3 separate regions of the Homo sapiens genome follow, and regions 1 and 3 are each linked to region 2. The links come from fine-mapping of genetic effects on gene expression. A gene starts in region 2. Each other region holds a variant in brackets. All regions are shown on one strand. Distances are between the middles of the regions.

Region 1 (9,060 bases), 41 kb before region 2:
CAACCTCTGCCTCCGGGTTCAGGCGATTCTCCTGCCTCAGCCTCTTGAGTAGCTGGGATTACAGGCATGTGCTACCAGGCCCGGCTAATTTTTGTATTTTTAGTAGAGACAAGGTTTCACCATATTGGTCAGGCTGGTCTCGAACCCCTGACCTGAAGTGATCTGCCCGCCTTGGCCTCCCAAAGTGCTGGGATTACAGGCATAAGCCACTGCACCCGGACAGGAAATTCCCTTCTTAAAGCGAGATCCTGTCCTGAGGAAAGCCAGCTGATGCTCTTCCCAGGAGGCAGCTGTCCACACTGTGCTCCCTGCTCAGCAACTCCCAAGCCTCCCGACTGCCCATCACATCTGGTCTCAAGGACCAGATGAACGTTAAGTTTCCTTCTAGAACTGAAATGGAGGTGGAGGGAGGGGAGGGTGGTGGCTGAGATTCCACCCCTCTGCCTGAGTCCTCCGTCTCCAGTGTCGCCTGCTTTTCTGATGGAAGTCCTCCATTTCAGCTGGCTCCAGTTTGTTAAGGGTTTCAACTGCAGCCAGAGGTGTTCCGTGAGGGCTGATGGAGGAGTCGGGAGGGAGCCCTAGAGTGATCCAGAGATGTGGAGAGGCCAGGACCACACGACAGGAGAGTCCTGCAAAGGGACCCTCCACAGCTGTGTGTCTCCTTCCTCAGTGCAAGCAATTTGTGGAGCAGCACACGCCCCAGCTGCTGACCCTGGTGCCCAGGGGCTGGGATGCCCACACCACCTGCCAGGTACACCCACCCCTCCCAGTTGGTCCTAGGACTTCCCTTGGCTCCCAGAGCCCCCACCCTTTGGGCCCGTGATCCTCAGAGGCCTCACTCCCCTGGGTCCAAGGTGGTCCCAGGTGCACGGGCCAGGGACTGGGAGGCACCCCTCTCTGTTTCAGTGTAAAAAATCATGAGAGCATGGAAAAGGGGGATGGGAAGGGAGGGATGGCCTGAGGAGTGCGGCTGGATGTCCATTATAGGATGGGGCTGTGTTCCCTGGCCAGTGTGTGCTGGTGGGGTGGGGGTACAAAGTGGGTGTTCTGGAGTGAACATCTCACCTCCTCAGGCTCTAAACCCTAAGGCCTGTGGCTCAGGGAGTGGCCCGAGGGGTCTACAGAGTCACACTGGTAGCACCCACTAGGCGGGAGGTGGAGTGAGTGCTGTTCTTTCCCGGAAGAGCTGGGTGTGGGGAGCTGAGGGGGCCCAGGCCTCAGCCCTGGTGCTGTCCCTGTGACAGGCCCTCGGGGTGTGTGGGACCATGTCCAGCCCTCTCCAGTGTATCCACAGCCCCGACCTTTGATGAGAACTCAGCTGTCCAGGTGAGTCCAGGCCCCCAGTTGCGGGGAGGTAAGGGGGCAGGTCCTGACCATCAGGGCATGGGAGGCCCTTCTGCTCCCCAAGCAGGAAGAGGCGGCCACTCCTGCCGGCTGCTCCATCCTCCCTCTCACCGCACAGCTGGAGGCTCCTGAGGGCTTCTGGCTGGCCATCAGGAAAACACCCTTTCCGGACCCCGAGCACTGCCCCGCCCAGAACCCCAGTCACTGAGTGCCCAACCCCCAGCTTCCCCCCCAACCCCCCGCCCTGCCCTGTCCCAGGCCTCCCTCTCAGAGCTTGCCCCAGGGACTCTCTGGCCCTCAGGGTTCAATGTATTCTGACCAAGGCCAAGCTTTCCTGGGGCTCAGGGAAAATCACACTTTGCTACCCGAAGCTGTATCCCCTCAGATGCCAGGAAGGCCGTGATCATCTGACTCCACCCTCCTGAGACACATTCTCTCCCTGACTGTCCTGTTCTAAGTCAGCGGAGCACCTTAGGATGGAGGGGTGGAGGCGAGGCCAGATGCAGCCTCTGTGAACAGGTGCCTGGAGGCTGGGAAATGACCCTGAGAGGGCAGGACACAGCAACCGTGGGCTTAAGGTGACCTTGAGAGCAAGCTTGGCCCACTTTACAATTCTGTTCAGAGCCAGCCCCTAACATGGTGGTCATTTATTCATTTGTTCCCTCATTTTAAAAAATGTAAGGCCAGGCATGGTGGCTCACGCCGGTAATCCCAGCACTTTGGGAGGCCGAGGCAGGCAGATCACCTGAGGTCAGGAGTTCGAGACTAGCCTGGCCAACATGGCGAAACCCTGTCTCTACTAAAAATATTTTTTAAAAATTAGCTGAGCATGGTGGCAGGTGCCTGTAATCCCAGCTACTCAGGACGCTTAGGCAGGAGAATCACTTGAACCTGGGAGGCGAAGGTTGCGGTGTGCCGAGATCGTGCCACTGCACTCTAGCCTAGGCAACAGAGCACAACTCTGTCTCAGGAAAAAAAAAAAAAAAAAAAA[G/AG]GTATTTCTTTGCTGGGCGCAGTGGCTCACACCTGTAATCCCAGCACTTTGGGAGACCGAGGCGAGTGGATCACTTGAGGTCAGGAGTTCAAGACCAGCCTTACCAACATGATGAAACCCCGTATCTACTAAAAAAAAAAAAAAAAAAAAAAAAAATTAGCCAGATGTGGTGGCACACACCTGTAATCCCAGCTACTTGGGAGGCTGAGGAGGAGAATTGCTTGAACCTGGGAGGCGGAGATTGCAGCGAGCCAAGATTGCGCCTCTGCACTCCAGCCTGGGTGACAGAGTGAGACTCCGTCTCAAAAAAAAAAAAAAAAAAGTAGTGGGTGCCTGTGGCCAGGCCACATCCTAGGGTAGGGGCTATGGCTGAGCCCTGCCCTCCTGGAGCTCACAGCCAAGTCCACTTCTTCCATCTGAGGCGGGGAAGCCAGCCCTGTTCCTGAAACCCTGCATCACAAGCCCCTGTGGGAGGCAGTGGGGAGGGGAGGTCCTCCCCCACTCAGACCTGACCCACAGGGACCAGTTTAATGTGTCCTTGCCCCAGTGATGACAGCTGGGGATCTGGGGGTGGGGAGTCACCCAGGACCCGGGCAGTCGCCTTTCCCCAGCTCCTAGGGCTCCCGGCCTTCCCTGCTGAAACAGCAAGACCAGTGGGTTGGCGTGGGAGGCCTGGGCTTCAAACCACCTCTGCTATCACCTGGCTGTGGGTCCCCAGGCAGGACATACACACAGTCCCTCTCTGGCCCTCATCCTCCTCAGCTGCAAAGGAAAAGCCAAGTGAGACGGGCTCTGGGACCATGGTGACCAGGCTCTTCCCCTGCTCCCTGGCCCTCGCCAGCTGCCAGGCTGAAAAGAAGCCTCAGCTCCCACACCGCCCTCCTCACCGCCCTTCCTCGGCAGTCACTTCCACTGGTGGACCACGGGCCCCCAGCCCTGTGTCGGCCTTGTCTGTCTCAGCTCAACCACAGTCTGACACCAGAGCCCACTTCCATCCTCTCTGGTGTGAGGCACAGCGAGGGCAGCATCTGGAGGAGCTCTGCAGCCTCCACACCTACCACGACCTCCCAGGGCTGGGCTCAGGAAAAACCAGCCACTGCTTTACAGGACAGGGGGTTGAAGCTGAGCCCCGCCTCACACCCACCCCCATGCACTCAAAGATTGGATTTTACAGCTACTTGCAATTCAAAATTCAGAAGAATAAAAAATGGGAACATACAGAACTCTAAAAGATAGACATCAGAAATTGTTAAGTTAAGCTTTTTCAAAAAATCAGCAATTCCCCAGCGTAGTCAAGGGTGGACACTGCACGCTCTGGCATGATGGGATGGCGACCGGGCAAGCTTTCTTCCTCGAGATGCTCTGCTGCTTGAGAGCTATTGCTTTGTTAAGATATAAAAAGGGGTTTCTTTTTGTCTTTCTGTAAGGTGGACTTCCAGCTTTTGATTGAAAGTCCTAGGGTGATTCTATTTCTGCTGTGATTTATCTGCTGAAAGCTCAGCTGGGGTTGTGCAAGCTAGGGACCCATTCCTGTGTAATACAATGTCTGCACCAATGCTAATAAAGTCCTATTCTCTTTTATGAGAAAGAAAAAGACACCGTCCTTTAAAGTGCTGCAGTATGGCCAGACGTGGTGGCTCACACCTGCAATCCCAGCACCTTAGGAGGCCGAGGCAGGAGGATCCTTGAGGTCAGGAGTTCGAGACCAGCCTCGCCAACATGGTGAAACCCCATTTCTACTAAAAATACAAAAAATTAGCCAAGTGTGGTGGCATATGCCTGTAATCCCAACTACTCAGAAGGCCGAGGCAGGAGAATTACTTGAACGCAGGAGAATCACTGCAGCCCAGGAGGCAGAGGTTGCAGTGAGCCGAGATTGCACCACTGCACTCCAGCCTGGGTGACAGAGCAAGACTCCATCTCAGTAAATAAATAAATAAATAAAAAGCGCTGCAGTAGCTGTGGCCTCACCCTGAAGTCAGCGGGCCCAGGCCTACCTCACTCTCTCCCTTGGCAGAGAAGCAGACGTCCATAGCTCCTCTCCCTCACAAGCGCTCCCAGCCTGCCCTCCAGCTGCTGCTCTCCCCTCCCAGTCTCTACTCACTGGGATGAGGTTAGGTCATGAGGACACCAAAAACCTAAAAATAAACAAAAAGCCAAACAAGCCTTAGCTTTTCTTAAAGACTGAAATGCCTGGAAGTGTCCCTTTATTTATAAAATAACTTTTGTCATATTTCTTATACATGTTTCTTGTAAGAAATTCAGAAACTACAGACAAAGAGAGTGGAAATTACCCACTGTCAGGCCTCTGAGCCCAAGCTAAGCCATCATATCCCCTGTGCCCTGCACGTATACACCCAGATGGCCTGAAGCAACTGAAGATCCACAAAAGAAGTGAAAATAGCCAGTTCCTGCCTTAACTGATGACATTCCACCATTGTGATTTGTTCCTGCCCCACCCTAACTGATCAATTGACCTTGTGACAATACACCTTCCCCACCCTTGAGAAGGTGCTTTGTAATATTCTCCCCACCCACCCCACGCCCGCACCCCCGCACCCTTAAGAAGGTATTTTGTAATATTCTCTCCGCCATTGAGAATGTGCTTTGTAAGATCCACCCCCTGCCCACAAAAAATTGCTCCTAACTCCACCGCCTATCCCAAACCTACAAGAACTAATGATAATCCCACCACCCTTTGCTGACTCTTTTTGGACTCAGCCCACCTGCACCCAGGTGATTAAAAAGCTTTATTGTTCACACAAAGCCTGTTTGGTAGTCTCTTCACAGGGAAGCATGTGACACCCACAATCCCACCTAGCCCAGGAGAGAGCTACGGCAGGGTGTGTGTTTTGACACTGAGCTTGGGGCTTTTTCCATCTTCTCCCCACAGCCTCTGGCTCCACACCTCCACCGTTCAAGCGCCAGAAAGAGCTGTCTATGCAGCCTGCTCTTGGGCCTGGGGATGAGACACACAATTCATTGGCTCCTGGATTTTAAGTAGACATTTGTAAATCTATAGCTAACTACTGTCCTTAAAGCCATTGTTTCCATTACAAAATCCAACTCTCTGAGAGAAAAGGGTGTTTTAAATTTAAAAAAATAAAAACAAAAAAGTTTGATTGAGACAATGAAGAGCCAATGTTTGAAGAACTGGAGGCATTAATAGTTTATCCCAAAAATATGAGTGGGAATGAGTGCCTGATAATGAAAAAGGCGGCTTCATTCAAAAGGAGGTCAAGAATTGGCAGACTTTGGGAGGCTGAGGTGAGTGAATCACTTGAGCCCAGGAGTTCAAGACCAGACTGGGCAACGTGGCAAAACACCATCTCTATAAAAAATATAAAAATTTGGCTGGGCATGGTGGCTCACACCTGTAATCCTAGCACTTTTGGAGGCTGAGGTGGGTGGATCACTTGAGGTTAGGAGTTCCAGACCAGCCTAACATGGTGAAACCACATATCTACTAAAAAAAATACAAAATTAGCTGGATGTGGTAGTGCATGCCTGTTATCCCAGCTACTTGGAAGGCTGAGACAGGAGAATTGCTTGAACCCAGGAGGCAGAGGCTGCAGTGAGCCAGGATTGCGCCACTGCACTCCAGCCTGGGCAACAAGAGCAAAACTCTGTCTAAAAGAAAAAAAAAAAAGATACAAACATTAGCTGGCCATGGTGGTGTGTGTCTGTGGTCCCAGCTATTCAGGAGGCTGAGGTGGGAGGATCGCCTGAATCCAGGTCAAGGCTGCAGTGAGCCGTGATGATGCCACTGCACTCCACCCTGGGTGACACAGAGAGATCCTATTTCAAAAACAAATAAATAAATAATTTTAAAAAAGAGTTGACTAGCTGGTAGGAGGACAGAATTGGCAGGAAGTGGCTACACTTGAGACTCCTAGGGTCCCTGAGAAGTGTCCAACATCCTGCACCTCTGCCCTTAGGAAGTTGGGGGAAGAGAAGTCCCAGGAGGGATTATAGCCCAAGAGGAGGGGACTTATTCTTCACTTTCCAGGGTGTGGGCTTCTAAGAGAAGCCTGCCTCTCACAGGACATCAGAAAGGGTGAGGACGCTAGCCTGAGGGATGGAGCTAGGCAGCTGGCCTGAGGTCTGCCTCACAGAGTGTTCCCAGTGTGATGTGGTTGCAGAAGAGCAACCTCAACCCACAGACCGAGAGGCAGTCAGAATTGGCTCTGGACAAGATGGTGCACCCGTAAGAGCCCACGGTTGGGGATGAATCTGTGACAGATTTAGTGGATCTTGAGATGAGCAGAAATCAGATGTGTAGCAGTGATGGCACAAGAAGATGATGATCAGGCAAGACGAGAGACACTCCAGAGAGACCTGGATGGCCAGGGAATGCTTAGTCCCCAGTGCCTCTCCTCACCGCAGGGCAATCTGTAAATCATTCCCAGGGAAAGGGGAAAGAGGATTCAGTGGTTAGTCAGCCAAGAGAGGCTGAGTATTAAGAAGGGAATGAGTTACTCCGAAATGGAAATAATATGTTTTGAGGGCTCATGAGCCAAAATGAGTTCAGTTATAGAGAAATAAAGATAATTACATTATGTCCCCCTAATGAATAACTGAAATTTTAAATCCACGACATAATCATTATTAACATGTTATTATCTATAATTCCAAAGCTTTCTGTGCACATATACAAAAACAGATACAGCAGATCTACAAAATGGAAACATCCTATACATGCTGCTTTGTAACCTGCACTGTTCATTTAACAATAACCTTTTCAGGTCAATAAATGTAAGTATCTACTATTATTGCTAATTGCCACATGACAGCTCTGTCTCCCAGGCTAGAGTGCAGTGGTGCGATCACTCTGGGGTTTAAGCAATCCTCCTGCCTCTGCCTCCCTAAGTGCTGGGACTACAGGCGTCAGATACCATGGCTGGCCCTTACTTTTTTTTTTTTTTTTTTTTGAGACAAGAGTCTCACTCTGTCATCCAGGCTGGATTGCAGTGGCGTGATCTCAGCTCACTGCAAGCTCCGCATCCCAGGTTCATGCCATTCTCCTGCCTCAGCCTCCTGAGTAGCTGGGACTACAGGAGCCCGCCACCACGCCCAGCTAATTTTTTTTTTTTTTTTTTTTTGTATTTTTACTAGACACGGGGTTTCACTGTGTTAGCCAAGATGGTCTTGATCTCCTGAACTCGTGATCCACCCGCCTCAGCCTCCCAAAGTGCTGGGATTACAGGCGTGAGCCACCGCGCACGGCCGGCCCTTTCTTTTTTAAGCAACTATTATCAACGATTTGCAAAAAATAAAAATCCTCGCACTTACATCTTTGTTTGTCTGTCTTCTTAGAATCAATTCCAAGACATGAAATTTGGGGGACACCTTTACTTTTAACAGAGGCTGGATTATCAATCTGGGCCTCTGTGCCAGCCGTACCAACTTCTATCCCAAAAGAAAACAAGTGCCTCTTTCCACTCTCACCAAACTGGGGTATTAACAATCTTTCAAACTTTGCTAATCCAAAAATATATATATATATTTATATATACAGGCTGGAGGGCAGTGGCACAATCTCGGCTCACTGCAGCCTCTGCCTCCCAGGTTCAAGCAATTCTCTTGCCTCAGCCTCCGGAGTAGCTGAGATTACAGGAACGTGCTACCATGCCTGGCTAATTTTTGCATTTTTAGTAGAGACGGGGTTTCACCATGTTGTCCAGGCTGGCCTCAAACTCCTGACCTCAGATGATCCACCAGTCTTGGCCTCCCAAAGTGCTGGGATTACAGGTGTGAGCCACTGCATCTGGCCTATCCAAAATATTTGTTTTGTTTTGTTTTGGTTTGGTTTGGTTCCTTTTTTTTTTTTCTGCTAATCCAAAATATTTTTAAATGATGTCTCATGGTCGTTCTAATTTGCATTTCTTTAGTTACCAAATAAACACCTTTTCACATGTTTATTGGCCATTTATATTTCATCTTTTGTGAAATGCCTACTTGGGTTTTTTGCCCAATTTTCTGTTTAGGTTTCTTTTTCTTATTGTTTTACGAGTAAAAATAAACTAGGTATATTCATTTATTTACTGTCCTATACATTGCAAATTTTTCTCTATCATATATCTGGAGTATTTTTTCCACATCTATCTTTTTCTCGTGATTTCTGGCTGTGGGGTCATGCTAAGAAAACATGAATTGAATTTCACTTCTTCCCCATGTGTGGTTCAAACTCTGGCCAGACCTTGAGGTCTCCAAAAGAGGAAGGGCATGCTGGGATCAGCTTTGAAGACATGCAGGCCAGGCCCCCAACCCAGACAGCCGTGGTGGAAGCAAGCCATGTGTCACCCACAAAGGACCTCAAGATCACACAGGATATGACGGTCAGCTCCAAGAAATAGTCCCTAAACTTTTAAGTGATAATTCCTATTTTCACCATCTTGGAAGGGTATAAAGAGACAAAATCATTTGTGCAAAAGGACAACACAGAGAACACAGGCTAAGTACTAAAGCATTTACTCAAAAAATATGGGTGATTGGCCGGGCACGGTGGCTCATGCCTGTAATCCCAGCACTTTGGGAGGCCGAGGCGGGCAGAACACCTGAGGTCTAGAGTTCAAGACCAGCCTGACCAACATGGAGAAACCCCGTCTCTACTAAAAATACAAAATTAGCCGGACGTGGTGGCGCATGCCTGTAATCCCAGCTACCCAGGAAGCTGAGGCAGAATTGCTTGAACCCAGGAGGCAGGGGTTGCGGTGAGCTGAGAT
Region 2 (10,280 bases):
ACCCAGGAGGCGGAGGTTGCAGTGAGCCAACCTGGGCAACACTGTCTCAAAATAATTTTAAAAAAGTAAAAATTAAAAAAATACATATATTAGAGATTCGAGAACCCAGAGTCTTTAAGATTACAGTCTTTCATATGACTAGCTCTTTCTCCCTTACAGACATATCCAGGTTCTGACCAGTCAGAGAACCTCTTATTGGTTTTCTAAGAATATTTCAATTTCCTGGGAACAAATAGAAATTATTAGATATGATTCCTGAGAACAGCTTACTTTCTTTAAAAAAAAAAAAAAAGTCCCTCTGGAGCAGATCTGCAGTTAGCTCTAACAACTTATTTACCTTGAAAGTACTTGCCACACACCAGACAGGCATAAGCATTGATGTGTGAGAGGGAGATAGAACACAGTTTCTCAAAGTCAAAGTCCAGCACACTCCTAAGGAAACAAAACAGAAAAAAATAAATAGGATGGACATGTAGGAAGGCACGCAAATGAAGCAGTGCTGGCTCTGTGACCCATGATACCACATAACATCCTTCAGAAAACAGTTCACAACCATATATACACCATGGGGGACACTGATTATTCCTCACCTCCACCCGCCATGCTCCAAAGCACTGTTGAGGTGTCTCCACCAGACACATAATACCCACGAGCCTCTTTCTCATTAGTGTTTGTAACCAGTTCAGGACTTTCCATTGCAGTCACTTTCTCTAGAGAGAAAGCTACAAGTTAGACTAAGGTAACAGTACCCCAGCAGCATTCTGGAGGTGGAGAGGACATAAAAAGGGTGAATAAATCCTTGCATAAAAGAAAAACATATCACTTAAGCCCAGGAGTTTGTGACTAATGAGCTCTGATCCACCACTGCACTCCAGACTGGGATACAGAGTGGGATCCTCTCTTAAAAACAAATAATAATAATAATTAATTACAAAATAAAAATGTATTTTTATCCATAAAAACAAATAGCCTGAAGAATTTCAGAATACCTATAAACAGACCTATTTATTCAAGTGCAAAGTGAGTACTGGCAGTAAGGAACAAAAACCTTATCTCCACTGAATCCACAAAGAGATTTATTCTCAAATAGTAACTCTTAATTAACCGATAATAATCCCAAAGAGCTATGCTGTCTAATTTATTAGAGGCCACTAGACAAAGTGGCTATTGACAATTAAATTTAAAATACAGCTGTCCCTCAGTAGCCACAGGACACTGGTTCTAGGACCCCTTCAAATACCAAAATCCACAATGTTCAAGCCCCTTACAGCTGGCCCTTTGTACCTTCAGGTTCCATATCCTGATACTGAGGCTGACTGTAATTCAATTAAATAAAATTTAAAATTCAGTTCTTCAACTGCAGGAGCCACTGAAGCCACAGGTGGCTCATGCCTACCATAATGAACAGCCCTTATAACTTTTTTGGTTTTTTTTTTTTGAGATAGGGTCTCACTTTGTCATCCAGGCTGGAGTACAGTGGCGCAATCTCAGCTCACTGCAGCCTCAACCTCCTAGGTTCAAGCAATCCTCCTGCTTCAGCCCCCCAAGAAGCTGGGACTACAGGAGTGCACCACCACACCTGGCTAATTTTTTTATTTTTTGTAGAGCTGAAGTTTTGCCATGCTGCCCAGGATGCTCAAACTCCTGAGCTCAAGCAATCTGCCTGCCTCAGCCTCCCAAAGTGCTGGGATTACAGGCATGAGCCAGAGCACCCGGCCATAACTTTTTTTTTAAGTTTTTTTAAAAGATGGGTCTCGTTGGCTGGGCGTGGTGGCTCATGCCTGTAATCCCAGCACTTTGGGAGGCCAAGGCAGGTGGATCTCCTGAGTTCAGGAGTTTGAGGTCAGCCTGGCCAACATGATGAAACCCCGTCTCTTCTAAAAAAAATACAAAAATTAGCTGGGCGTGGTGGCGGGCACCTGTAATCCCAGCTACTCAGGAAGCTGAGGCAGGATAATCACTTGAACCTGGAAGGCGAAGGTTGCAGTAAGCCAAGATCGCGCCATTGCACTCCAGCCTGGGGGACAAAAATGAAACTCCATCTCAAAAAAAAAAAGATGGGTCTCATTATGTTGACCAGGCTGGTCTCAAATTTCTGGCCTCAAGGGATCCTCCTGCCTTGGCCTGCCAAAGGGCTGAGTAAAGGCGTGGGCCACCACACCCAGCTCTTACAAGAGTAATTATATTATTGTAAAACATTCCCCTACAATATAGGTTGAAAAACATTCTACATGCCACCTGGGAATCAGAGAAAAGAATGCTATGATGAGGTAAACTACCTCAGCTTTCAAACAAATTTCTGTGTTTTTTTTCTGCTGAATCCCAGGCACCCAAAATAGTATCCAGCACATACTAGATACTCCATAAACATTTCAATGTGCTACTGTTATTTTAGGATACTATGCATCCTGTTATCCCAACATACAAATGCAAAATAAGCTCTTTAACAACATGTGTTCTGACACTTTAAATCAAAGAATAAGGAGTAACATGGCAAGAAGCACAACTCTCTAGACAGGTTCAAAAAAAGTAAAGTTTGTCAATGTGTTGTTCACTGTACAGTCCAAAAACTTTCTGCACAGATTCCATTGTTCTTGTGCTATACTCAGCATCTCTGTCCTACTGACCTGTTAATGGTGTCCAGGTACGGGCAGTGGCGGCTCCTCCGGTCCTCAGAATCCACTCGGCCATTCTTTGCTGAAAGGAAAATCATCACAGGCTTTGAAAATGGGAAACCTATACTCAGGGCCAACTAACAGAACAAAAAAAGAAACAGAAATGGGAAAAACTAATCAAGATGAGTTCCTATTGTTTGGGTGGCAACAATATCGAAAAAAAAGTCCACTAGCCGGGCGCGGTAGCTCATGCCTATAATCCCAGCACTTTGGGAAACCGAGATGGGTGGATCACCTGAGGTCAGGAGTTCAAGACCAGCCTGGCCAACTATGGTGAAACCCCGTCTCTACAAAAAACACAAAAATTAGCCAGGCATGGTGGTGGGTGCCTGTAATCCCAGCTATTCAGGAAGTTGAGGCAGGATAATTGCTTGAACCTGGGAGAAGGCGGTTGCAGTGAGCAGAGATCGTACCGCTGCACTCCAGCCTGGGCGACAAGAGCAAAACTCCCTCTCAAAAAAAAAAGAAAAGAAAAAAGCCCACTAATAGAACAAGCCACAAACTGGGAGAATATATTTGGTATACATAAAATCAACAGAAGATTTGTTTGCATTTTACATAAAGAAATCCCATAAAGCATGAAAAATATGAAATATGTCACAAGCACTAAAATAAACTAATTGTAATACAAATGTACCATATAGTTGTGTGTTTCGTTTTTTTTTTGTTTTTTTTTTTTTGAGACGGAGTCTCGCTCTGTCCCCCAGGCTGGAGTGCAATGGCGCGATCTCAGCTCACAGCAACCTCCGCCTCCCGGATTCAAGCAATTCTCCTGCCTCAGCCTCCCGAGTAGCTGGGACTACAGGCACAAGCCACCACACCCAGCTAATTTTCATACTTTTAGAAGAGACGGGGTTTCACCATGTTGGCCAGGCTGGTCTCGAACTCCTGACCTTGCGATCCACCCTCCTTGGCCTCCCAAAGTGCTGGGATTACAGGCGTGAGCCACTGCGCCCGGCCACAAATGTACTACGTAGTTTAAAGAGTGGCTGGGTGAGTGGCTCATGCCTGTAATCCCAGCACTCTGGGAGGCAGAGGCAGGCGGCTCACCTGAGGTCAGGAGTTCAAGGCCAGCCTGACCAATATAATAAAACCCCATCTCTACTAAAAAATACAAAAATTAGCCGGGCATGGTGGCATGCACGTGTAATCCCAGCCTACTTGGGAGGCTGAGACAGGAGAATTGCTTGAACCTGGGAGGCAGAGGTTGCAGTGAGCTGAGATCGTGCCATTGCACTCCAGCCTGGACAACAAGAGTGAAACTGTCTCAAAAAAAAAAAAAAGAATGTACATGTGTATCTATAAATCTACCACTTGTCAAAAACTTGAGTGGGTCTCAGATCTTACCCTACTCGCAAGCTAACAAGTTAGCCTGTCACAGTTTTATGAATGCTGATGGAAAGCATGTGACTACCTGGCCTGAAATAAAGGACAGTTTATTAGAGCAATGACAGTAGCCGGAATATAGCATTGGTGTCAGTTTTCCAAGTGAATTCCCACAAGGCAAAGTGAGGAGAACCCATGCACACAGTGAGCTGCCTTACAGGAGACGAACCCCGTGCTTAGAGAATCTGAACCATTAACCATTTTTTCAAACGAGGTCTCGCTCTGTTGCCTATCCTAGTCTTGAACTCTACCTCATCCTATAGAGTAGCTGCGATTACAGGTGTGAGCCACCACACCCTGCCCCAAATCTTTTATAAGGGATTGTGCCCTTGTCTCCTCGTTTTGTAGGGAGACACCATTTCTATCTTCCAAGGCTGCTCACTACACGAACATCCTTAACGAGAGTCCAGGAGAAAAGGCAGTCAGGCAATGGTCGCAGTACGTGCACAAACTCAAGAGACTAATGGAAAATTGTCTCCAGACTTTATTCAGCTTAAAAAGTGCTACATAATCCATACTTTAGTAGAGGTGCCTATTGCTCAAGCATTCTGAATATCTTGATTACAGAAATTACAAGACCTTAGATGTAAAAACTGAAGGAAAGCCGTGCACGGTGGCTCACGCCTGTAAACCCAGCACTTTGGGAGGCCGAGGTGAGTGGAACACTTGAGTCCAGGAGTTCGAGACCAGCCTAGGCAACATAGCGAGACTTGCTTCTCTTAAAACGCAAAAAAAAAAAAAAAAATTCTTTTTTAAAATGGAAGGAAGTAACACTTGTAAAATCAGCACTGAGCCCCCACATCGGGCATTCGATAAAGGGAAGCTGCTGTTGTTACGATTTTTGCAGTTAGAAATACCATACGTTTGGCCGGGCACGGTGGTTCACGCCTGTAATCCCAGCACTTTGGGAGGCCGAGGCGGGCGGATCACGAAGTCAGGAGATCGAGACCATCCTGGCTAACACGATGAAACCCCCTTCTCTACTAAAAACACAAAAAATTAGCCGGGCGTGGTGGCGGGAGCGGTGGTGGGCGCCTGTAATCCCAGCTACCTGGGAGGCGGAGGTAGGAGAATCGTTTGAACCGGGGAGGCAGAGGTTGCAGTGAGCCGAGATCGCGCCACTGCACTCCATCCTGGGTGACAGAATGAGACTCCATCTCAAAAAAAAAAAAAAAAAGAAAAAAGAAATACTATACGATTATTGAGAAGGGTACTGTCTTCATCAGAACAAGTCGAACAGCAGAATCGTCGAGTCTGGATCCCTCCTCTTCTCCACCCCAACCCCACCCCTCCCCCAACTCCGGCGCAGTGACCTAGCGGAAGATTAGAGACAAGAAAAAAGGACGCGAAAAAAACAGGCTCTCGCGCCTAGCCCGGCCCGGCCCCGCGCACCTCGCACCTCCCGCTCAGGCTCCGAGTCCTCATCGACCTCGCGCTCCCGCTTCACCCGCACAAACGGGACAACAGAAGCCGGGGCCTCGCGCGCGCTCGCCGGCTCGAACTCCCGCTTCACGCGCACAGGGCTGCCCCGGGAGCTCGCCGCCTCAGGCTCCCGCTCCCGATCTCGCTCCCGCTTGACGCGACCGGAGCTGCCCCGCGACTCAGACTCTCGCTTCCCGCGAGTGGAACCGCGAGACTCCCGCTTAGACCGGCCGGACATCTCCACTACCGGCCGAGTCGTCCAGCGCAGGCGCCAAGCACGCTCGAGCGCGCGGCACAAGGCCAATCAGGAGAGGGGCTGGTAGCGAGCCCCGAACTCTCTACGAGTCGCCACTGGGGACAAATCACGCTGCAGAAAATTTGTGGGCGGTGCTGTTCCTGCACTGGCTTCCTCTCCCCTTAGAACCTTCTGTGGGCCTACTGTCGTTTACAGTTTACTGAGACGGGAACCTTTACTGGCGACAGTTTTCTGGATAAAAGCTGTCAGGCCGGGCGCGGTGGCTTACGCCTGTAATCCCAGCACTTTGGGAGGCCGAGGCGGGTGGATCACCTGAGGTCGGGAGTTCGAGACCAACCTGACCAACATGGAGAAACCCCGTCTCTACTAAAAATACAAAATTAGCCCGGCATTGTGGCGCATGCCTGTAATCCCAGCTACTCGGGAGGCTAAGGCAGGAGAATCGCTTGAACCCAGGAGGCGGAGGTTGCGGTGAGCCGAGATCGCGCCATTGCACTCCAGCCTGGGCAACGAGCGAAACTCCGTCTCAAAAACAAAGAAGCTGTCATTCGGCCCCAGATTTGTGCCTCGAAACCACCACCGTGAGGTCGTTTCCCACAGTCTCCGCGGCTTGGGGGCTGACAATCCTGCACAGGAAAACTAGGCGACATTCCCAAATCATCCCCTTGACAGCCCTAATTCTACTTTTAGAAGGTTCTTGGTACCATGAAAACGCAAATGCCCGGTAAAGGCAGATTTACCATGAAGCTAATAAAGCTCTAACCTCAGGACCTGCCTTGAACTTGTTTGCTTGTTTGAACCGTTCCATTGAGGTATAATTGACATACAACAAACTACATGTTTAAAGTGTGCAATTTAGGCCAGGCGCTGTGGCTCATGCCTATAATACCAGCACTTTGGGAGGCCAAGGCGGGCGGATCACCTGAGGTCAGGACTGGAGACCAGCCTGGCCAATATGGTGAAACCCCATCTCTACTAAAAATACAAAAATTAGCCGGGCGTGGTGGCACGAGCCTGTTAACCCAGCTACTTAGGAGGCTGAGGCAGGAGAATCGCTTGAACCCGGGAGGCGGAGGTTGCAATGAGCCGAGATCGCCCCATTGCACTCCAGCCTGGGCAACCAGAGTGAAACTCTGTCATACCCACACCACACCACACCACACCACACCACACCACACCACACCACACCACACCACACTGTGTGCAATTTACTGAATTCTGACTTGCGGTATATGTCAGAGGCGTTTCAACCAGACCAACTCCATCTTGAGTGAGGGTTAGGAAAATGAGGCTGGGCCTTGACAGGCTGCATTCCCAGGAAGTTAGGTATTCCTAGCCTAGAGATGTCTACAGTTAAGGGAACAGAGAGATAATGTTTACTAAACAGATCCAGACTTGGGAGTGTCCTAATATCCCAATATCTGGAGAATAAAGGCATTCCTAATTTTGCTTTAAAGATAATATTTCTTCTTGCAAAATATAATAATAAAATTAATCCTTTATCACAAACCCTTGTAGCAGAGCACATCTCCCCATGATCTTTTTATCCTATATATAAACAAGCATTGTAGCCATGGTGGATGCGTTCCTCCTTTTACTTTCAGGAACGCCCTATTCTGTCAATGGAGTAGCTGTACTTTCACTACTTTACATTTTATTTTTTTGATACAGAGTCTTGCTCTGTCACCCAGGTTGGAGTGCATTGGTGAGATCTCGGCTCACTGCAACTTCTGCCTCCTGGGTTCAAGTGATTATCCTGCCTCAGACTCCTGAGTAGCTGGGATTACATGCACCTGCCACCATGCCCGGCTAATTTTTGTATTTTTAGTAGGCACAGAGTTTCACCATGTTGGCCAGGCTGGTATGGAAGTGCTGACCTCAAGTGATCCGCCCGCCTCCCCTTCCAAAGTGCAGGGATTACAGGCATAAGCCGCGACACCTGGCTACTTTACTTTCTTAATAAACTTGCTTTTACTTTGCACTGTGGACTCACCCTGAATTCTTTCTTGCACAAGATCCAAGAACCCTCTGCTGGGGTCTGAATAGGGATCCCTTTCCTGTAACATATACACCCATGAAGCCATCACCACAATCAAGAGACGGGATCTGGGCCCAGTACGGTGGCTCACACTTATAATCCCAGCACTTTGGGAGGCCTGAGGCAGGAGGATCACTTGAGGTCAGGAGTTCAAGACTAGCCTTGGCAACATAGAGAGACCCCCCCCATCTCCACAAAAAAATTTTAAAATTAGCTGGGCATGGTGGCATGCTATTCAGGAGGCTGAGGCAGGAGGATCGTTTGGGCCTGAGAGGTGGAGGCTGCAGTGAGCAGTGATTGCACCACTACAATCCAACCTATGCGACAGTGAGATCCTGCCTCAAAAAAATAAAAAAATAAAAAAAAATTTAAAGAATCTACCCAGCCCCAAAGATATCCTCTTCCTCCCAGAGAACCCCCACAAAAATCAACTGATCTCTCGGTCACTATAGATTAGTTTGCACTTCCTAGAGTCTCATATAAATGGAATCATACAGAGTCCCTGGCCTCTTTCACTGGGCATATTTATTTTATGATCCATCCATGTTGTTGAGCTACAGATCTTCCTTTGGATTGCTCAGTAATATTCCATCGTGTGGCTGGACCACCATTGGTCCCTGTTTTTTGTTTTTGTTTTTTGTTTTTTGATTTGGAGGTTGGACTGCAGTGGCTCGATCTCGGCTGACTGCAACCTCCGCCTCCCGGGTTCAAGCGATTCTCCTGCCTCAGCCTCCCAAGTAGCTGGGATTACAAGCACCGGCCATCAAGCCCAGCTAATTTTTTGTATTTTTTTTTAGTAGAGACGGGGTTTCACCATTTTGGCCAGGCTAGTCTCGAACTCCTGACCTCTTGATCTGCCCGCCTGGGCCTCCCAAAGTGCTGGGATTACAGGCGTGAGCCACCACGCCCGGCTCTTTCTTTCTTTTTTAATGTATTTTTTTCTTGTAGAGACGATGTCTCGCTGTGTTGCCCAGGCTGGTCTCAAATTCCTCCCTCCAGCGATACTCCCACTTCGGCATCCCAAAGTTTTGGAATTACAGACATGAGCCACTGCATCCAGCCGTTTGTCCCTGTCCTAATCATGAATTCCTGATTTTGACTTTTGTAAAAGGACTTGAGAATTTTACACGCTGTGACGTGAACCCAGTGGTCAGAAAAAATAGAAAAAAAAAAAAAAGGGGCCGGGCACGGTGGCTCATGCCTGCAATCCCAACACTTTGGGAGGCCGAGGCAGGCGGATCACCTGAGGTCAGGAGTTCGAGACCAGCCTGGCCAACGTGGTGAAACCTTATCTCTACCAAAAATACAAAACTTAGCCGGGCGTGGTGGCACGCGCATGTAGTCCCAGCTACTCGGGAGGCTGAGGCAGGAGAATCGCTTGAACCCGGGAGGCGGAGGTTGCAGTGAGCCGAAATCACGCCAATGCACTCCAGCCTGAGCGACAGAGTGAGACTCCTTCTCAAAAAGAAAAAAAAAAGGAAAAATAAATAAAAAAGAAAATAATACACCCGTAGGTCCCTCAAAAACCCTGGGTCCTCCCGCGGGGACAGTTAAGCCATCGGCGCCGTGAGCAGGAGGCAAGCCGGGCCAGGAGAGCCTTCGCGGCGCCTGCGGCCTGGGCGCCGCTGTTGCCCTGCCTGAGCACTTCAAGGCCTCACAATCCATTTGAGGTAGGTGCTCTAGGTGTTCCCATTTACTAATGAGGAAACTGAGAAGTGGCAGCGTTACACAGTCAGCCAAAGTCACGCAGATGGCGATGGATTGCACAGCATCCTATTACCAGAAAAAAGATGGGAAGGCACCGCCGTAAGCATCGAGTTGTGTTATAGATGATTTGCATTTTTCTGAAGGTTCTGGTATCAGCTGTAAGCCGAAGTCCTTGTTTCCTATTGATATGTTACGAAAAAACAAACAAAAAAAAACAAAAACAAAAGCCCTCCGTCCGGGGGGTGGAAGTCAAGCATACCCTACTCCACCCGACCCGACCAGACCCGAAAACTCCGTGCGCTGCATCGCTTGGCCAGGCCGGGGCCTCCCAGACCGGAAGTCAGGATGCGGGGCCGGAAGCTGAGCAAGGGGCGGCGCGGAGCTCTGTGGGCGGGTGGCTGTTGTTGGGGCCGTCGAGGCGGCGGCGACTCTGCGTCCCCGGCTCCTGATGGAGGCGGGGCCGCATCCCCGGCCGGGGCACTGCTGCAAGCCTGGGGGGCGGCTGGACATGAACCACGGCTTCGTGCACCATATCCGACGGAACCAGATCGCTCGGTACCGCCCCGCCCTGCGCCGCCGCCGCCACCACTCCTGGCCTGGCCTGGCCCGGCCCGACAGTCCCTGACTCCCGCTCGGCTCCCCGCAGGGACGACTATGACAAGAAGGTGAAGCAGGCGGCCAAGGAGAAGGTGAGGAGGCGGCACACGCCCGCGCCGACGCGGCCCCGCAAGCCAGACCTGCAGGTGTACCTGCCGCGACACCGAGGTGAGGCCGCCCGCCCCGCCTGCCTCCAGCC
Region 3 (8,827 bases), 31 kb before region 2:
AGTGAGCCGAGATCGCACCACTGCACTCCAGCCTGGGCGACAGAGCGAGACTCCGTTCTCAGAAAAAAACAAAACAAACAAACAAACAAACAATTCAGGGGCCTGCCACCTCAGAGACATTTCTCGGAAGTCAACAGTATAGAGTTATGTCAAAATATCCTCTCCAAGACAGGTGGCTGTACCTCATACCACCACACACACACACACGCACGCACGCACGCACAATGTTTGATAGGTTTTTCTTGGCTTTTGGAGACCACATATACATTTGAGCAGCACAGGCACCCAGTAGCTCCACCTGGCACTCTCCTCCCTGGACAGTTTTATAGCAGAGGCCTCCAGGGAGACACCTGTGAATGGCTTTCCTGAGTACACTACAAAGCAGATTTTTAACGAGGTTCAGAGGGCATATTTTTAGCAAGGTCTGGATCTCAGCTTTGGACACTGTCAGCCCCAGAACTAGTGGCAGCTCTTTGTATCTGTTATTCCTACATTCTTTACTTTACTTGTTACTAACTAATCCCGTTTCTACAAACCCGTTGTAGTTAATAATTATTGAAATTAAACTTTCCCTGAACAGATTATTATACATGAATTTCTCTAACTGGATAGTGTAATCTTCACCTCAAAAATAGCCAAGTTTGAAAGAGAAACTCATGGCAGGGCACAGTGGCTCATGCCTGTAATCCCAACACTTTGGGAGGCCAAGGTCAGCAGATCACCTGAGGTCAGGAGTTCAAGACCAGCCTGACCAACATGGTGAAACCCCATCTCTACTAAAAATACAAAAATTAGCCGGGTGTGGGGCGCACACCTGTAGTCCCACCTACTCGGAAGGCTGTGGCAGGAGAATCACTCGAGCCTGAGAGGCAGAGGTCGGCAGTGAGCTGAGATCACACCACTGCACTCCAGCCTGGACAAGAGTGAGACTCCATCTCAAAAAAAAAAAAAGGGAAACTCACAAGCTCAATTTTTTTTCTTTTTTGTAATGACAAGGTCTTGCTCTGTTGCCCAGGCTGGAGTGCAGTGGTGCAATCATGGTTCACTGCAGCCTCAAATCCTGCGCTCAAAGGACCTTCCTGCCTCAGCCTCCCAGATAGGTGGAACTACAGGCACACACCACCATGCCCGGCTAATAGGGTCTTGCTATGTTGGCCAGGCTGGTCTTGAACTCCTGGCCACAAACAATTCTTCCACCTCAGCCTCCCGAAGTGTTAGGATTACAGGCAGGAGCCACCACACCTGGCAAGCTCAGTTCTAAACAATGTTAAGTTTGAGTTTACTTTAAAACACCCAAAAATAGGGCTGGGCACCATGGCTCACGCCTGTAATCCCAACACTTTGGGAGGCCGAGGCGGGTGGATCACTTGAGGTCAGGAGTTCGAGACCAGCCTGGCCAACATGATGAAACCCCGTCTCTACTAAAAATACAAAAATTAGCTGGGCACGGTGGTGGTCGCCTATAATCCCAGCTATTCAGGAGGCTGAGGCAGGAGAATCACTTGAACCCAGGAGGCAGAGGTTGCAGTGAGCTGAGATCATGCCACTGCACTCTAGCCTGGGCGACAGAGCAAGACTCCATCTCTAAAATAAAAATTAAAATTAAAAAATAAAATAAAATAAATAAAATAAAATAAAATAAAAAAATTAGCCGGAAATCACTTGACCCTGGGAGGTGGAGGTTGCAGTGAGCCAAGATTGTGCCACTGCATTCCAGCCTGGGCAACAGAGCGAAGTTCAAGAGTTTAGAAAAATCTGGGATTAAGATGTGTTTATGAGTCATTTCCATAAAAATGCATAGCTGAAATGGCCTAGGGAAAAAGTAAACAGCAAGAAGAGTGACGCTAGGACTGAATCTTGAGAAAACCCAAATTTAATGGCTGGATAGAAGAGATAAGCCTCCTAAGGAAATACTGGAGCTTCCAGAGAGGTAGAGGAAAGTGAGGACAAGGTTGTGACCAGGTAAAGGGTGGCACCACAGGAGTGCGGGGCTCCTGTCTCCATTCAACAGAACTTGCTGGGGCTGACTGGCTGCCTCCAGCTGCTTCCCATATCTTTGGACCTGCCACAGTGCTCATGCCAAGGCCACCCTTCTTCTAGGCTGCTAGAGCCCACGACTGAGCTTGATGGGAGCCATTTCTGCTGAATTGTCTGACGGAATCTTTGCCCTGGGGCTCCACACTGGACTGGCTGAGACCACCTCAGAATTGCACTGTAGTGAGAAGCGCTTCCTATTTCCTTTTTTTCCTCTTCCCTTACTCATTCCTGCACTGCAGCTGGAAACTGCCCACCTCTGGCCCTCTAGTTAAGCACAATAATAATGTATCCCCTTGACTCAGGTATTTTTTTACTTAGAAACAAATGCATCCTAACTGACACACCACCCACAAGCTGACAGGAAAGGGCGAGCGTGATGTGCACCAGATGTCAGACTGTAGGGTAGAGAGTTTGTGAAGATTAAAAAGGAAAATATTTTCCTCAGCCAACCACCAAAGGAAAAGATATAAAACAAGAGGCTGGTTTAAAAACAGGAGACTATTTAATCCATCTAAAAATACAAATCAGGAAATGGGGGGAACCATAGGAAAATCCTCCACCTCTAACAGAGCGAAGTTACTGGCTTTCTGCTTGCTCCAAGAATCCCAAGGCTTGATGTTTGGAAGGAATTATCTGTTCTTCAACTACTCCCAGATACTCAAGACATAAGTTACACACATCTGGAGAAGGGTTCTGCCCTGCTGAAGCTAGATGGGAGCTCAATGCATGGGAGAAAGGAGCATCAATCTAGAAAAAAATGATCAAAGAACAGCTGAGTGACAGTGTGGGGCCATCCCAGGCAAGTGGGCTCTTGGTGCTCTGGTGTAGCCAGAACCCATACAAGCTGGGCTGGCCTAGGAAGCCCACCAGCCAGCCTGTGTTCAGCTACAGCTTCTGTGTTCTTATTTACCATCATCAGCCACAGCCCTTGGGAGCAAAGCCCTAGACGCCTCCTTCAAGCCCCCTGCTGGTTGGTTTCATCATTATCTCGCCTCTTCCAAATCTGTAAGAAATGAAAACACAAACTGAAGTCTAGGAGGCATTCAGTCAACAGACACTTATCAAATACCTATTCTGTGCCAGGCCATGGACAACTTGTCACCCCATTTACAAATCTGCTATACCCCATTTGGAAATCTGCTACAGTGGCTACAGCCACTGAGGAGAAAAAAGTTATCTCTAGAAGGAGAGGTATCACTTTCTTCTTACAAAGCTATGGCTTTTGTCTCAATCTTCCTTCTTTTGCCAGGTACTAGGGCAGTTACATAAAGAGAAGACAGAGATGCTCTGTGCTCCATGGGTCAATCCAATGGAGAGGACAGACAGGCAAAGCGATATGGCCGGCACTAAAACAAACGTCAAGTAGAAAGCGCTGTGGGGTCACAAAGCTGCCTGGGGCTCTGGGGAGCACTTCGTGGTCGACTTCTAGCCAGCCTCCCTGATGAGTCTAGGTTCTTCCTCCTCGAAACCAGACCGCACACTTCTGCAAAACTAACCTGGCCATAATCGCAACTTTCTTTGCTCACTCATACATTTTCTACACTTCCTTATACTTCTTTTCTGAAAATCTCTGCTTGACTTTCAGGGCCATACATTCTGCCCCCAACTCACTACTAAGTACTTCCCAATAGGTACCTGGCCCTCCAACCAAGGTCCTAACTCTATCCCTCTTCCTGCCTTGGCCCACTCCTCTCACTGGCCCCATACGCCACCTATTTGTGGCTCACTAAGCCTGTGGCCAACCCACCTGAATGTAAGCCTCTGACAGTGTGATCATCTGGGGAAGGATGTCAGTCACCTGGAGGTCTTGTAATTCATACCATTTGCCTGTCCCCTGCAGAAAGTATGAAGAGCTGGGTTAGTCTGCTCTCTAAAACCAAAAGGGTGTAGAAGGAAAGGATCATAGCCAAGACTAGAAAAATTAGAAGAACAGCCACTAGACATCATCCAGCAACAGTCATAAAGAAGAGGGTACATGACTTCTTCTGGCCATGATTCAATTAATAGGACTTTTGGTGTGTCAATCATGGCAAACTCAATTCCTGTTGGGAATTTTTTTAAAGCACTGTTTTTTGTTTGTTGTTTTTTTGTTTTTTTTTTTTTTTGAGACAGGGTCTCACTCTGTCACCCAGGCTGGACTACAGTGGTGTAATCACAGCTCACTGCAGCCTTGACCCTCTGGATTCAAGCGATCCTCCCCTCAGCCTCCCAGGTAGCTGGAACTACAGGTGTGTGCCACTAAAACTGGCTAATTTTTTTTTTAATAGCAATGGGGTCCCACTGTGTTGCCCAGGCTAACTCCTGGTCTCAAAAGATCCTCCCGCCTCAGCCTCCTAAAGTGCTAGGATTATGGGTATGAGCCACTGCGCCTGGCCCCTTGAAGTACAATGGAGTCTGAAACACTTCTGTACATCTTTTTAAAAGGAATTTAGTGGACACTAAAGATGAGAAAAGAGGAAGCCATCTAATCATCACCTATGATGTCTCCTTCCTGCTCAGAAATGACAGACTAGACATTCTCACTTATGAGGTACACAGTGTCAACCACTGAGAGAACCTAAATATGGACATTCCTGGCTGGGCACAGGGGCTTACGCCTGTAATCCCAGCATTTTGGGAGGCCGAGGTGGGCAGATCACTTGAGGTAAGGAGTTTGAGACCAGCCTGGCCAACACAGTAAAACCCCGTCTCTACCAAAAATACAAAAATTAGCCAGGCCTGGTGGCAGGTGCCTGTAGGTCCCAGCTACTTGGGAGGCTGAGGCAGGAGAATCACTTGAACCCAGGAGGTGGAGGTTGCAGTGAGCCAAGATCATGCCACTGCATTCCATCCTGGGTGATAGGGTGAGACTCTGTCTTAAAAAAAAAAAAAAAAAAAAA[AG/G]CAACAGGTCATCAAGAAAAGGTGTCCTTGGTGGACACTGTCTATCACACTAACCTGATTCCTTTGGCCTAAGAAACCAGTGCTACAAATACAGCAAAACGTATCTCACTTCATGCTTCCATGAACAAGGAAAAAATGTTTCTAGATTAAGGCAGAGGCACCTCTGGCCGCCCACCTGTCTTATCCAACCAAAGTTCTAAGAAATACCAAAGACCATTATTGTAGAATATAAATATTCCAGATCCTCTGGATATTACAATAGTTGAGAATATAGGAAACATAAGGAAAGCTCAGGATCACATAAGTAAGTTCCCATTCCTGCTTCAAGGACGAGTTAAGAACATGGGCTTTGAAGCAGAGTACCTGGGTCAAATCCTAATTCTACTGACTTGAGGTCAATTACTGAAACTCTGAGCCTAGGTCTCCTCCTCTGTAAAAAAGATGATACTGACATCTGTCTTGGAGGTGTGTTTTAATGAAAGAAATGAGATTAATGTACATTAAGTAACTGGCGTACTGCCTAACCACAATAAAGCACTTGATAAACAGAAGCTAGTTAAGATTAAACCCACAGTTCCAGAAGAGGCTAATCAAATGAGAACAATTTATGCTAATAATCTATGTGATATCAAATATATCTCAAGTACATGTTTTATCTGTTTTCAACTTGAGACAAATCCACAACATTTTTAAGATGAAAGGGAGCCTCTAAACCAGTGCTTCGCAAACTTTAATTTCTTACAAATCAGAGGGTCACGTTAAAATCCAGGTTCTGATGTGGTAGGTTTGAGGGGACTGAGAGTCTGCATTTCTAACAAGCTGATTTCTAACAAGACTGATGCTGATGTTATTGGTCCAAGGATGCATCCCACTTTGGATGGTAAGGCTCTAGTCTAGGGCAGAGGTTCTCAACCTTGGCTGCATATCAGGGTCTCTCAGGGAACTTCAAAACATCAAATGCCAGCCAGGCATGGTGGCTCATACCTGTAATCCCAGCAGTTTCAGAAGCTGAGGCGGGAGGATTGCTTGAGACCAGCATGAGCATCATAGCACAACCCCATCTCAATTAACTTGAAAAATAGAAAAGACATCAAACAGAAAAGACATCCACCTCCAGACAATCTAACAGAGAGCCTTTAACCTTAATGCTGACTGATGTTTAGGGTCAGATAATTCTTTGTAACACGGGCTGTCCTTCGTGTTGTAAAATATATACCAACATCCCTGGCCTCTGCCCCAGCTGAAAACTACTATTATAACCGGCCTGGTGTGGTGCCAGGCATTGGGATTTTAAAAAGCTCCCGGTTGGCGCGGTGGCTCACGCCTGTAATCCCAACACTTTGGGAGGCCGAGGTGGGTGGATCACAAGGTCAGGAGTTCAAGACTGGCCTGGCCAAGATCGTAAAACCCCGTCTCTACTAAAAATACAAAAATTAGCCGGGCGTGGTGATGGGCGCCTGTAATCCCATAATCCCAGCTATTCGGGAGGCTGAGGCAGAGAACTGCTTGAACCCAGGAGGCGGAGGTTGCAGTGAGCCAAGATCACGCCACTGCACTCCAGCCTGGGCTACAGAGCGAGACCCTGTCTCAAAAAAAAAAAAAAAAAGCTCCCAAGGTGAGTCCAATGTGTAGCCAAAATTGAGAACCACTGCCTTAAACTAACTACTGACAGCACTATTACTTGCAGAGTCCCAAAGCCAAGGCCAAGCAAGGACACACTGAAGGGAGCTGCCCTCTGAGATGCCAAAGAAACACCTGTTTTTGCCACTCTGTGCCATGAGACGGTCAGCAGCCACTCACATGATGAAGCACGTGGATCCGGTAGGAGCCCTCGGAGGGCTTGCCGTCATGCACGATGTTGGCAATGAGGTCATAGGTGGTATTCTTGTGTACTGCTTGTACTTCTTCAGACAAGTATTCTCTCAGATCCACATTTCTGTTAATGGTTAAAATAAAGCCGGAATAATCAGACAAAGGCTGTGAGGTTAAGGAAACTGTCCTACACAAACGGACCACAAAATTGTTCAGCCCTATTTTAGGACCCTTTCTCTGGGTAGGCTTGCAGAGTCAAGAAGGTCCAGGTGCGTTGGAATTCACAAAATATGCCAAAATGAATGACAGGGTTACACAGCTTCCCATATGATTTAAAAAAAAAAAAAAGAATGACAGGCAGTGGCTCATACCTATAATCCCAACACTTTGAGAGGTCAAGGTAGGAGGACTGCTTGAGCCCAGGAGTTCAAGGCCAGCCTGGGCAATGTAGTGAGACCCCTACAAAAAAAAAATTAGCCAGGCATGGTGGTACATGCATGTGGTCCTAGCTACTCAGGAGGCTGAGGTGAGAGGATCACTTGAGCCCAGGAGATTACGGCTAAAGTGAGCCAGGACCACACTATTGCACTCCAGCCTGGGCGACAGTGAGACCCTGTCTCAAAAAACCCCCAAAAGGAAGAAGAACTTTCAAATAGTTAAAAAGGAAAATATATAGACAGTTAACAAGAATATTAAGATTAAATACATAATTTTAGGAAAAATATATCATTTTGGAGTCTACAAATATTTATAAAAACTTACACAATACAAGGTAAAATAAAAAAAAAGACATTGCATCATAAAAGTTGTCTGATGTGCTACCACTCATTACATGAAACAAAACCATGTTATCACTGGAAGAGTTCACAAGAAACAGCTAATGGTGGTCACGTCCAGTTATATATCTCCCTTTGAAGTTAGACTGTGAACATATTAACTGTTCAAAATTACAGAGTTTAAAATGTAAACCATGTGGTAATAAACAAACATACAACTTTGTTGTAATTATTATATGTAGCTTTCTATGTATTGGTGACAGCTATTTGTTTCTACAGACTGACAGTGTCCCATATATGATGCAGTCAGACTGCAATAAATATTCACTGTTAAGAAAATGGAAGCCAGGTGCGGTGGCTCATGCCTGTAATCCCAACACTTTGGGAGGCCGAGGCGGGCAGACTGCCTGAGCTCAGGAGTTCGAAACCAGCCTGGGTAACATCGTGAAACCCTGCCTTTACTAAAGTACAAAAAAAAAAATTAGCTGGGCGTGGCGGCGTGCACCTGTAGTCCCACCTATTCCGGAGGCTGAGGCAGGAGAATTGCTTGAACCCAGGAGGCGAAGGTTGCAGTGAGCCGAGATAACGCCACCGCACTCCAGCCTGGGCAACAGAGCGAGACTCCATCTCCAAAAAAAAAAAAAAAAGGAGATATGAGTCCTGAGTCCATGTGAGCTCTAGTCAGCCAACCTGCCTTCCTGCTACTAAAGGCTGACTTCTCATTTTATTTTCTCTTCAGCCTGAACAAAAGCTGACTAGACTTGTCTGAATGAGTATCAGTGAAGAAGTCTTTTTTTTTTTTGAGACAGAGTCTCGCTCTGTCGCCCAGACTGGAGTGCAATGGCGCTAGCTATCTCAATTCACTGCAAGCTCTGCTTCCTGGGTTCACGCCATTCTCCTGTCTCAGCCTCCCGAGTAGCTGGGACTACAGGCGCCCACCACCATGCCTGGCTAATTTTTTGAATTTTTAGTAGAGACGGGGTTTCACCGTGTTAGCCAGGATGGTCTCGATCTCCTGACCTCGTGATCCGCCCGCCTTGGCCTCCCAAAGGGCTGGGATTACAGGTGTGAGCCACCGTGCCTGGTTTGGAGAAGTCTTTATACTCAAGATTTCATGACTGAACCAAAACTGTCCATGCGGCAAAAGAGAAATACTACGTTTAATCATTTTGTGTTAGTAAATAGGAAAAGGAGCAAACTATTCATTTTTTTTTTTTTTTTAGTAGAGACAAGGTCTTGCTATGTTGTCCAGGCAGGTCTCAAACTCCTGAGCTCAAGCAATTCTCCCACCTCGGCCTCCCAAAGTGATGACATTACAGATG

The links. PIP is the estimated chance that this variant, and not a neighbour inherited with it, causes the effect. A credible set is the group of variants that fine-mapping cannot tell apart.
Region 1: its variant is the best candidate, but not a certain one, in a credible set for the expression of USP39 in monocytes (CEDAR, PIP 0.50).
Region 3: its variant is the best candidate, but not a certain one, in a credible set for the expression of USP39 in neutrophils (CEDAR, PIP 0.56).

The regions. Positions count from the first base shown.
Region 1 is chr2:85,653,720-85,662,779 of GRCh38, reverse strand. SFTPB (surfactant protein B) reads left to right here. Exons shown (of 11, transcript NM_000542.5): 9 at 671-751; 10 at 1,245-1,326; 11 at 3,098-5,466. The coding sequence ends at 1,307. Among named protein-coding and RNA genes, the nearest start is that of SFTPB, 9.9 kb to the left of the region's middle. The variant G/AG (reference allele first, on the strand shown) is at 2,336.
Region 2 is chr2:85,611,637-85,621,916 of GRCh38, reverse strand. USP39 (ubiquitin specific peptidase 39) reads right to left here and starts at 5,731. Exons shown (of 13, transcript NM_006590.4): 1 at 5,454-5,731; 2 at 2,628-2,697; 3 at 338-432. The coding sequence starts at 5,721. It overlaps C2orf68 (chromosome 2 open reading frame 68), which reads left to right and starts at 9,851. Exons shown (of 4, transcript NM_001013649.4): 1 at 9,851-10,039; 2 at 10,131-10,249. The coding sequence starts at 9,933. RefSeq lists enhancers at 5,938-5,987, 6,018-6,067, 9,510-9,739 and silencers at 9,351-9,523, 10,010-10,079, 9,699-10,080.
Region 3 is chr2:85,642,974-85,651,800 of GRCh38, reverse strand. USP39 (ubiquitin specific peptidase 39) reads right to left here. Exons shown (of 13, transcript NM_006590.4): 11 at 6,718-6,853; 12 at 3,785-3,871; 13 at 2,518-3,040. The coding sequence ends at 2,993. Among named protein-coding and RNA genes, the nearest start is that of SFTPB, 21 kb to the left of the region's middle. The variant AG/G (reference allele first, on the strand shown) is at 4,917.